3 linked regions of the Homo sapiens genome follow. The protein of the gene in region 1 purifies or fractionates together with the protein of each later gene. This does not show direct contact. Each region holds a gene or a part of one and is shown on either strand. Other genes may lie near its edges. The genes, in order: CAB39L, GBP1 and BTF3L4.

Region 1 (3,658 bases):
TGACTAAGTTTTGGTATGTTTGTCTGCAAATTAGCTGCACTCTTTTCTGATATATTCTCTGAACATTTTTTTGATGATAAAATACAGAAACCAAAAGTAAAATGATTGTCAGGGGCTGGAGGGAGGAGGAAATGGGGAGTTATTATTTAATAAGTATAGAGGTAGAGTTTGAATTTTTCAAAATAAAAAAGTTCTGGTAGTTGGTTGCCTAACAATGTGAATATATTGCATCCTACGATTTCCTACATAGTGACAAAGTAGATAATACATGATCAAACTATAGATGATTATGAAACAACGACAATATAATTTCTTACTATTTTGTTTCACCATGTGGACATTTAAAAATTTCATTCATAAAATAACATGATGTCCTTCATATTCAAAGATGTAATTCTCCATCTCCCTTCACTACCTAGTTCCTTTCCCCAGAATTAATCACTGTTGCTGTTTCCTATGCATCCTTGCAGAGGTATTCAGTGCATATGTACCTTAAGTGGAAGCTTATGCCCTTTAATCTGTTTTTAACATAAATGACAGCATGCCACACACAGAGCACTACATATTCCTTTCCCACGTAACTGTATATACTGGAATTCACTCCATTTGAGCTTGTGACAAATATTTTGAGTTGTTTTCCTGCAATAGGACAGACTGGCCTCATAGACTGCATTCTATTTACAGATTCCTCTTATGATCCACATCATACATGGTTGGCTACACTGAGGCCTAAGAAGTAAAATTTCTTGCTTTTTAAAATTAAATTGCCTCTTCAGGGGCCAAGTGACTATAAATTGACCTAGCTGAGTTGGAAAAAAAAAATTACCTTGAAAGTAGCAAAGGCATCTGAAGCAATATCAAATGTTGACAACTCCACGTACTTAAAGAAATCTCTGAATTGATTAGAAAAGAGGATGATTTTGGCAAGTGGTTCATGTCGAATACATTCTCTCAGCATAATCCCACAACGTAAGGCAATCTGTGGGGCTTCATATCTAAAGCGTAAACAAGAGAGAAATAGAGAACTCTGTTATCCTATTAAAATAATATTAATGGCATCAAAAGAACCATTTCAATACTGCTATTAATGGAAGCATACATACCATTTGTCACGATTCATTCAATATCCACTGAAGATCTACTATGTGCCTGGCACTATTGCAGACGTATTCTGGAATTTGAGTGTATTCTGAAACACTTAGATATACTCAAATATGAACATGGTGACAGCTGGGGGTGGGGGGATGAGGCAGAATGTAAACAATGAAAAGATAATTTCATACACTGAGAAGGGCTGTAAAAACTGTTGACAATAAAATACGCCACATTATAAAGGTGACTAAATTGTGTGTGTGTGTGTGTGTGTGTGTGTGTGTGTGTGAGTGACTACTTAAGTTACTTTACTTTAGACTCAAGGAAAAGGCAAAATGTTCCAGGCAAAGGGAAAAAACTGTTCAAAGGCTCCATGGCAAGAACAGGCTTGGCGAAACAGAGAAGGAGGAATAAAGCCTGTGTGATTCGATTGTAGAGGAAGAACCGTGAGTGGTGTGAAATGAGGCAGGGGTGGAGAGAAGGGCAGGGGCCAGATCCCAGATCAGATACAGCTTTGTCAGCCAAGGTAAGCAGTTGGTTTTATTTTAAGTGTAATGGGAAGCCTTTGGAGAGTTTAAAGCAAGAAATTGACAAGACTAACTTATGCTTTAAAAAGATCACTCTGGCTTCTTGTTGAGAATGTCTGTAAAACAGCAGGAGACATATAAGAACAGGAGCAGAACCCAGGAGAGGGAACGGGGGCTTGGCCTGGGGTGGCAGGAGCAGAACAGAGGACTGTGGGCAGGTGGTGGATACTGTTCGGAGGAAGAGTCAACAAGACTTGCTGATGATGTAGCTGGAGTTGGGTGAGGGAATAAATTTGGAAACTGAGAATTCACGAATGATTCCTATGTTTTTGGCTTGAATCACTGGGTAGATGGTGGTGCTATTTATTAAGATGAATAAACTAGTAGAGGAACAAGTTAGTAAAGAAATTAAGAGTTTGTGGTTGACCACATTAGTTTTGAGATGGCTGATATCTAAGTAGAAAGGTCTCCTTGGCAGTATGATACACTTATCTGGACTTTAGGAAAAAGATAGGAGAGACCTATATAAATATATGATTTGCATGCAGTAGGTGGCTAATACATAGCTGTGGACTGATTGACTCACTTAAATCCTAAGTGGAATCATGGCTCACAGCAAAAAATATGCTAGACAAACGAAACGTCTACTGTGGGAAACAATTCAGGACTGGCATACCAGATTGGTTCCATTTCTAATACAACAACAATCTCTCAAAGTCAAATTCAGTCTCTAAGTAAGTTTAAGATATATTCCAGTGTGTGATAAGATTTCAAGAAAATGAATAATGCTTAGCCCAAGTACAACAAGCCCTGTATTGAAATAATACAGTTGACAATTGTGTGGTAAATATAGGAAGAATAGAACAAAGAAAGATATAGTTGTGATACACTGGGAAGTGAGCAGAATATAGGGCCCCCTCCAAAAAAAAAAATCTGGTGGGGCGTGACTGCTCACTCCTGTACTCCCAGCACTTTGGGAGGCTGAGGTGGATGGACTGCTTATGCTCAGGAGTTCGAGACCAGCCTGGGCAACATGGCTGACTTTACAAAAAATAAAAAAATAAAAAATTTAGCTGAGACCCTGACTTTACAAAAACTAAAAAAATTAGCTGGACATGGTGGCACACGCCTGTAGTCCCAGCTACTCAGGAGGCTGAGGTGGGAGATTGCTTGACCCTGGAAAGTTAAGCGAGACTCTGTCTCCAAAAATAAAAATAAAATAAAATAAAATCTGACCATATTTTTAAAGAGATATCATTGACCATTTCAACTGAATACTAGTTTTTATGGAACTTTTATGATACTATAAAACTTTAAGATATTTTATTACTCATCAACTACTAGTAACAACATTTGTTGAACAATAAGTAATGTACTACTCTTTATAAGATTATAGAATTTTCATGAAAGACAGATTCAAGAATAAAGATTCAATTGAGGAAATAGACTACTTTCCAATATCAAATTTACAAATATTAGTAGAAGAAACAGCAAACAAAGATACCAGGGTGGTATTTATTCATTTTTGTCCTGTTTATGCAGAATGATATTCACAAATATTGAGTATTCCCTGAATAACTCATAGTAACATTAAATGCTGATACATTCAGATAGTCATGATTCTTTGTAGAATATAAGGAATGCCAATTTATAGTGCTAGCAATTTCTCTTATTAGAAAAACCTGAAACTCAGCCTATTGGCTCACAAGGAACAGTTGTCAGGTGGGGTTTTATTAAAGATGTTGTAAAGAGGGGTATATGTTCTGAAATGTAAAGGAGAAAAGCACTGTCATTTATTGATAGAGTACTCAAGAGAGTATAAAATAAAGGCTGTTGGCCTAGAGAAAGAATCTAAGGGAAGGACAATTAAAATCCAGACTTATTGATCAGCAAGATATATGTGGATTTTTGTAATTTGGCCCTAACCTTAACTTTTCAGTTTCATCTCCCATCACATTCGTTATTTCCCTGGAGCCCCTCATTCCCTCAATTGGAATGCCCTTCTTACATTCCCACAACTCAGATGCTTCTCATCTCTC
Region 2 (3,658 bases), on another chromosome or scaffold:
TATTCAGCAAGTATTAATTTCTAGGAATAGCCAGCTGAAGACATAGAAAACTGCAAATGCTGGAAAACTAGCAATAGTAAACTGAAAAATGATAATTTCTTGTGTTTTCTCATCCTCATTTATCAGTTGAAGCTCTCTGTTACCTTTCTTCAGCTTCAGGGAGTATGTCAGGTACTCATCTGGTGTGAGGGGTTGTCCATCTGCTTCCAAGTCCAGGGAGAAATCTCTCAGTGTCCACACAAAGTCTGGGAAGAAGCTCACAAAGTCAGCTGAATCCTCAACCTCATTCTCATTCTCATCAGGTGAGGATTTTGATCGGATTCTATGTGTCAGCTCTGTCACATAGCTGAGTAGCTAACTAAGGAAATGTGACAAAATGAACAGGGACCTCATCCCATGTTAGTTCAACACATACCCAAACCTTCCATTTTCCTTTGCTCCTAACCTAAGTGTCAGTGTCAGTTCTAAAGTGGATACATGGGATCTCTCCTCTGTACTTGCATTATTTTTTGTTTTCTCCTTTTGAGCTTGATTCATCAGGATTCACAGTCAGGCAGCTGGTGTATGAATACAGGTGTCCCCTCTGACCTTGGTGCTGTTCTGGGTCACAAAAGGATACTACAGTTGGTCCATAGCCTGCTGGTTGATGGTTCCTATGCTATTGTACACGAAGGTGCTGCTCAGGAGGACGGCCAGGGCGAAGATCCAGGAGTCATTCTGGTTGTCACCCTGGAAGTCAAGACACACTGGAGTCAGGAGCAAGTTTCATCATCGCAGCACTTTTCAGAGTAACAGTAGTAAAACTATGTTCATATGTTAGAGGGTTTTTTTTTCTTTTCTTTTTTTTTTTTTTTTTTAACACTAATGACCTATTAAAGGAAGACAAATACAAAAATTATTCTCAGTAGGATGTGGCTTTTGGGTAGTTTTTCGACGAGTGTTTTTGGGTTACCATGATTCTTACTAGGTCTTCTAATGATCATCAACAGATAATTGTAAAATTAAAATTCAAGGTTGGTGGGCATTTTAAGGCCTGAGTACAATGTAAATTTAAAATTTTCTCTTCTTTTTTTCAATAACAGAATTCACATATAAGATTGGTACTATTAGTTGCTATTTTATTGAATAATTAATATACACCTGTAATGTATTATCTTATTAAATATTCAAAATAATACTATATGGCCAACATAGGTCTTTTCCATACATTTTAAAGATTAGAATGCTGAGGCGAAAATAAGTCAATTTTCTCAGGCTACTGAATTAGTGACAGAATTTAAATTTAAATACAAAGTCACATGGCTTTAGCACCCAAATTCTTAACTAAAGTTCTGTGCAGGATAAGACTTATGACACTGGGATTATTTGTGCTCCCTTTATGCATCTGTGTTAACCCACACATATTACAGCCTGTAGTTAATAGTTAATAAACAATTAACCGCTGCATAAAATATTCAGAGAGGAGGGGCTTACTCCACAACTGGATCCTTGAGTCTCACCTTCTCTACATCTCCCAGACCCTCGGTGTCCAGCAGAACTAGGATGTGGCCTGGCTTCTTGGGGTGGGGCACACACCACATCCAGATTCCTTTAGTGTGAGACTGCACCGTGGAGCCCAGAGAGAAGCCTGCAAGGGAGAGAGGAGACCAGCGATGGGGATTTAGTAACAGGCAGTTCTGGCAATTGAAGGAAAAAGTAGTATATTTAAGGTTAAGAGAGAGAACTGAAACAACAATCAGTATTCACCTTACGTACTTACAATCAAAGAAATAGGAAATTTGAATATCCAATGCATGGAAACATTCAGGAGGCTTTCATGATAAAAATAATCAACAAAGTAGAAATAGAAAGACAGCACCTCAACATAATAAATGCCATGTATTAAAAACCCACAGCTAACTTCACATTTAATGATGAAACGTCATAGCTTTTCCTATAACATCATGAACAAGAAAAGGATGCCTACTTTTGTCAATTGCATTCCACAGAACACTGCAAGTCCTATCCAGAGTAATTAGACAAGAGAAGCATAAAGGAGGCATCCTAATTGGTAATGAAAAAGTAAAATTATCTCTGTCTGCTGATGATAGTATCTAATTTGTAGAAAACATTAACTATCCCACAAAAAACTATTAGAACTATTAAAACAATTCATCAAAGTTGCAGCATGCAAAGTCAATATGGAGAAATCAGTTGCTAGTGTAAAAAATAGAAAAGGAAATTTTGGAAACAATCCAATTTAACAGCATCAAAAGAATAAACTACTTAGGAATCAGCTTAACCAAGCAGGTGGAAGACTTGTAGAGTGAAAACTTCAAACACCCTTTAAAGAAATTATAGATGACATAAGTTATTAGAAAGACATCCTGTGTTTATGGATTGGAAGACTTAATATTCTTAAGATGTCACTACTACCCAAAGTGATGTACAGGTTTGATATAATCCCTACCAACATTCCAATTACTTTGTATAAATAGAAAAATCCACCATAAATTTCATATGAAATTTCCAGAGATCCCCTAATTATAAAAATAAAAAGGAAGAGCAAAGTTGGAGTCTCACAGTTTCTGAGTTGTGAAACGTATTACAAAACCATGTGTGGTACTGGTATAAAGACTGACATATAAACCAATAGAATAGAAAAGACAGCCCATGAATAAACTCTGATATATATGGTCAAATGATTTCCAGTATGGGTGTCAAGATCATTTAATGAAGAAAGGAGAGTCTCTTTAACAAATGATGTTGAGGAAATGATATATCTCCTTAAAAAGTTGGGCTATTACCTTATAACTTACAAATATGAACTCAAAATGGATCAAAGAACCAAACATTAGAGTTGAAACTATAAAAGTTGTAGAAGAAAATAAAGGGTAAAAGTTTTATAATATTGGATTTGGAAATTATTTTTTGAATAAGAAACCAAAACTATAGACAATAAAAGAAAAAATAGATTAGTGGGACTTCAGCAAAATTTAAAACTTTTGTGTATTAACGGACACTATCAACAGAGTTAAAAAAGGCAACACACGGAATGTAAGAAAATGGTTTCTAAACATGTATATGATAAGGGATTGATATCTAGAAAATATAAAAAAATTTACAAAGCAACAGAAATAAACAACCAGATTAATAAATGAACAATGGACTTGAATAGACATTCTCCCAAAGAAGATATACAAGTGGCCAATAAGCACGTGAAAAGATGCTCAACATCACTAGTCATTACGGAAATCAAAATCAAAACCACAACGAGATACTACTTAACTTCCATTCGTATGGCCACTATAAAAAAAAAAAACCACTGAAAATAAAAAATGTTGGTGAGGATGTAGAGAAATTAGAACCCTTGTGCATTTCTGTTGAGAATGTAAAACGGTACAGTCACTGTGGAAAATGGTATAGTGATTTCTTAAAAAAAGTTAACATGCAATGACTGCATGAGCCAGCAATTCCCCTTCTGGGTATATTCCCAAAAGAAGTGAAAGCAGGGACTTGAACAGATATTCAGACACCCATGTTCCTATTAGCATTATTTATAATAGACAAAAGGTGGAAGAAATCCAAGTGTCCATTGACAGATGAAGAGATAAACAAATTAGTATACACGTACAATTACTAAGCCTTAAAAAGGAAGAGTTTTGACACATGCTAACAC
Region 3 (3,658 bases), on another chromosome or scaffold:
GGAGACTGAGGCAGAAATTTCTTGAGCCCAGAAGGCAGATGTTGCAGTGAGCAGAGATCACACCACTGCACTCTAGCCTGGGTGACAGAGTGAGATTCTGTCTTAAAAAACAAAAAAACAAATGGAATCATCAGGCAGAGGTGCATCTAGGTGGTAACATCACAAGTAGTTGTTGTTATTTATTAAGTATCTTCTGGAATAACATTAATCTTTGGTCTCATATTTGAGAAAAATAGTGTCATCAAAATACAATAAACTGACATACAATTTTTTTTTTTGAGACGGATGCTCACTCTGTCACCCAGGCTGGAGTGCAATGGCACAATCTTGGCTCACCGTAACCTCCGCCTCCTGGGTTCAAGTGATTCTTTTGCCTTAGCCTCCCGAGTAGCTGGGATTACAGGCATGTGCCACCACAGCTAGCTAATTTTTGTATTTTTAGTAGAGACAGGGTTTCACCATGTTGGCCAGGCTGCTCTTGAACTCCTGACCTCAGATGATCTGCCTGCCTAGGCCTCTCAAAGTGCTGAGATTACAGGCGTGAGCCACTGCACCCGGCTGACTAATACATTTTAAACAATTTTTGAAACAGTTTTAATAAGAAATCTAACCCATGTAAAGCTACTGCTAAAGCCTTTTGGCTGAGGTAGTAACTAATGAGGCTCTGTAAAATATACAGGTGCATTAGGGTAAAAAAGTCTACCTCTATTGAGCCATGAGTCCAAAATCTTAAATAATAAAAAAAAGTCTGGCCGGGCGCGGTGGTTCACACCTGTAATCCCAGCACTTTGGGAGGCCGAGGCAGGCGGATCATCTGAGGTCAGGAGTTTGGGACCAGCCTGGCCAGCATGGTGAAACCCCGTCTCTACTAAAAACACAAAAATCAGCCGGGCATGGTGGCACGCACCTGTAGTCCCAGCTACTTGGGAGGCTGAGGCAGGAGAACCGTCTGAACCCGGGAGGCAGAGGTTGCAGTGAGCCAAGATCGTGCCATTGCATTCCAGCTAGGGTGACAGAGTGAGACTCCATCTCAAAAAAAAAAAAAAAAGGTCTATCTCATCTGAGGAAATGTTGGGGTTTATTTCTACATTATTAGAGACATATTTTATATTAATATTCAAGAACACTTACATAATTTTGCCATATACGCAAATATCTTGAGCTTGAAAAGTATGATGAAAATCCTTAACTGTCTACTAAAATTATTTTTTTGACCATCATTTAATTTCATACAAAAATCAAAGTGCCACAGTCCTTCAAAGACATCAGAGTGACAATATCAAAGATTTTTCTAAGCTGATATTTTACATCTGAAAGGTCCAGACAATTATTTGTGCATGTACCCACACAATTTAACAACTTGCAAAGTGATCATACCTCTTCAATACCAGCTATATTATTCACAGCCAGTTTTTTTAGAGAACTCTGAAGCTTTTTGTCATCAGCTGTGGCTGTTCTATGTACCACCTTCTTCTTTCTGCGAGCTGTACCCTGAAAAATAACCAAACAGAAGCAGAAGTGTTAGCATGCCTGGCATCTGGCAACTGCAATCACATCTTACGTATCACAATAATCTAAAACCCACATTAAAAAATGGACAAAATAATAATGATTAATGTTATAAGACTTCTCAGAGGTTGTGATTGTCAGCCTAACGCAGATTTCTAAAGGTTGGTTCTAGCCAGTTCCTTTTTTTTCCTTATCAGCTTTTTCAGGTTGAATTATTCTTATCTAATATCCAGCCTTTGTCATTTCAACACAAGATACTGTTTGCTAATAAAACATAATTTATAACTTCAAGACAATTTAAATACTTTATAACAATTTTAAAACATTATCTTTTCTTATAGTAACTACCACCCCCTGCCAGTAGTCTAAAGATATTCTGAAATTTGGGGAATTAGGACATAACTGAAAATTAATGTCTACATTACAGTAGGAGGAAAAAAATCAATAAATATATAAACAAATCAGATAATTTCAAATGGGATTAAGTACTATTAAGAAAAAAGCAAAACTAGAGCACAGCAAGAATGACTAAGTAGGGGCAAAGCAATACTTTATTAGAAGGTCCAGGAAAGCCCCCTCTGAAGAGGTAACATATGAGTTGAGACCCATAACTAGGGCAAGAATGATCAAAGCAGAATGAAACAAGGTTGAACTTGTCCTTTCTAGAAGAGAGAAAATGGGCCAGTATGGCTAGAGCAGAGTGAATAATGGGAACGGAAGAGGAATATGAAATCAGAAAGATAGGCAAGGACCAGATTATGTAGCCTAGAATGCCATGGGCAGGAGCTAGATTTTATTGATTGCAATGGGAAGCCATTGAAAGGTTTTAAGCATGGGAGTGACTTGATCTGATTACTTATGACTGAAGTTGCTATGTAGAAAATGGATTATAAAGAGACCAGTCAGGAGGCTCCTGTAGCCGTCCTGGCCAGAGATGAGGGATATGGCAGTGAAGATGGTGAGGGGTCAGATTCTCACAAGAGACCACATGACTTTGCTGATGGATTACACGTGGGATATGAGAAAAAGAGGACATTTGGATGATGCTTAGAATCTTGGCCTGAGCAAACAGGTTGAAAATTATACTAGTTACTGAGAAAGAAAAAGTTCATTTCTAAATTGATACTGTGAAACTCTAAATACATTTTTCCATTGAAATACTATTTAAAATAATGGATTCCTGGATCAGTTTATTAAGTCTTGAGGGTTAAATCTTTCTAAAACTGGTAGGAGTAAGGAGAAAGGAATAGTGGTTTCAATCTCTGGGTAGCTCCTATAGTAGTACTCAGGGAATCAGCCTTATAGAGGTAAGGTAGGGGCTTCAGTCTCAGCAATTCCGGTGGGAGTGGAGGAGAGATCTGACAGCAGAGGATGCCTTGAAATCTAGTTGCTGAAGGACTGACTATTTACATAGGCACTCATTTGTGAAGCATTCCTGACTCAGGGATAGCTCAACTGCTTGGTGCTTGTTCAACTCGAATGATCCTCAGGCACCTCAAATTCAATATGTCTTAAAGCTTATCAGTCCACCAATCTATTCTTATTTCCTAACTTTTGTAGCTGGTGGTACCACCATATACTCAAGTCTCTAAAATCATGAATCTGAGGGTTATCCTAGATTCTTCTGCATGCCCTTTACCCCCCATATCCCATCAGTCACTAAATCGTGTCAATTCCAACTCCTAAATTTGTATCCCATATAATAGAGGTCCCCAACCCCCAGGCCACTGACCAGTACCAGTCTGTGACCTGTTAGGAACACGGCAGCACAGCAGAAGGTGGGGTAGGGGGCATGAGCGAGCATTACTGCTTGGGCTCCACAGCCAGTCAGATCAGCGGCAGCATTAGATTCTCATAGGAGGGCGAACCGTTGTGAGCTGCGTATGCGAGGAAACTAGGATGCGCACTCCTCATGAGAATCTAACTAATGCCTGATGATCTAAGGTGGAACAGTTTTATCCCAAAACCATCATCCTCCCATCCGTGGAAAAACTGTCTTCCACGAAACCAGTCCCTGGTGCCAAAAAGATTGCGGACTGCTGCCTTAGACTCTAGCAATAGCGTCTCAATTGTTCGCCTATAGGCCAAACTTCCATTTTGTTCCATTTTCCACAACGCCAGCAGCTACCTTTCTAAAATGGCAGTCATT

Evidence for each region.
Region 2: the proteins of CAB39L (region 1) and GBP1 purify together in Homo sapiens (affinity purification with mass spectrometry; one large-scale study listed by BioGRID and IntAct). This does not show direct contact.
Region 3: the proteins of CAB39L (region 1) and BTF3L4 purify together in Homo sapiens (affinity purification with mass spectrometry; one large-scale study listed by BioGRID and IntAct). This does not show direct contact.

Annotation. Positions count from the first base shown.
Region 1 is NC_000013.11:49,349,918-49,353,575, forward strand, and holds part of CAB39L (calcium-binding protein 39-like), read right to left. Parts: intron 996-3,658; coding exon 827-995; intron 1-826. UniProt on the Homo sapiens protein: Component of a complex that binds and activates STK11/LKB1. In the complex, required to stabilize the interaction between CAB39/MO25 (CAB39/MO25alpha or CAB39L/MO25beta) and STK11/LKB1.
Region 2 is NC_000001.11:89,058,698-89,062,355, forward strand, and holds part of GBP1 (guanylate-binding protein 1), read right to left. Parts: intron 1,628-3,658; coding exon 1,500-1,627; intron 730-1,499; coding exon 620-729; intron 347-619; coding exon 144-346; intron 1-143.
Region 3 is NC_000001.11:52,062,658-52,066,315, reverse strand, and holds part of BTF3L4 (transcription factor BTF3 homolog 4), read right to left. Parts: intron 1,492-3,658; coding exon 1,378-1,491; intron 1-1,377.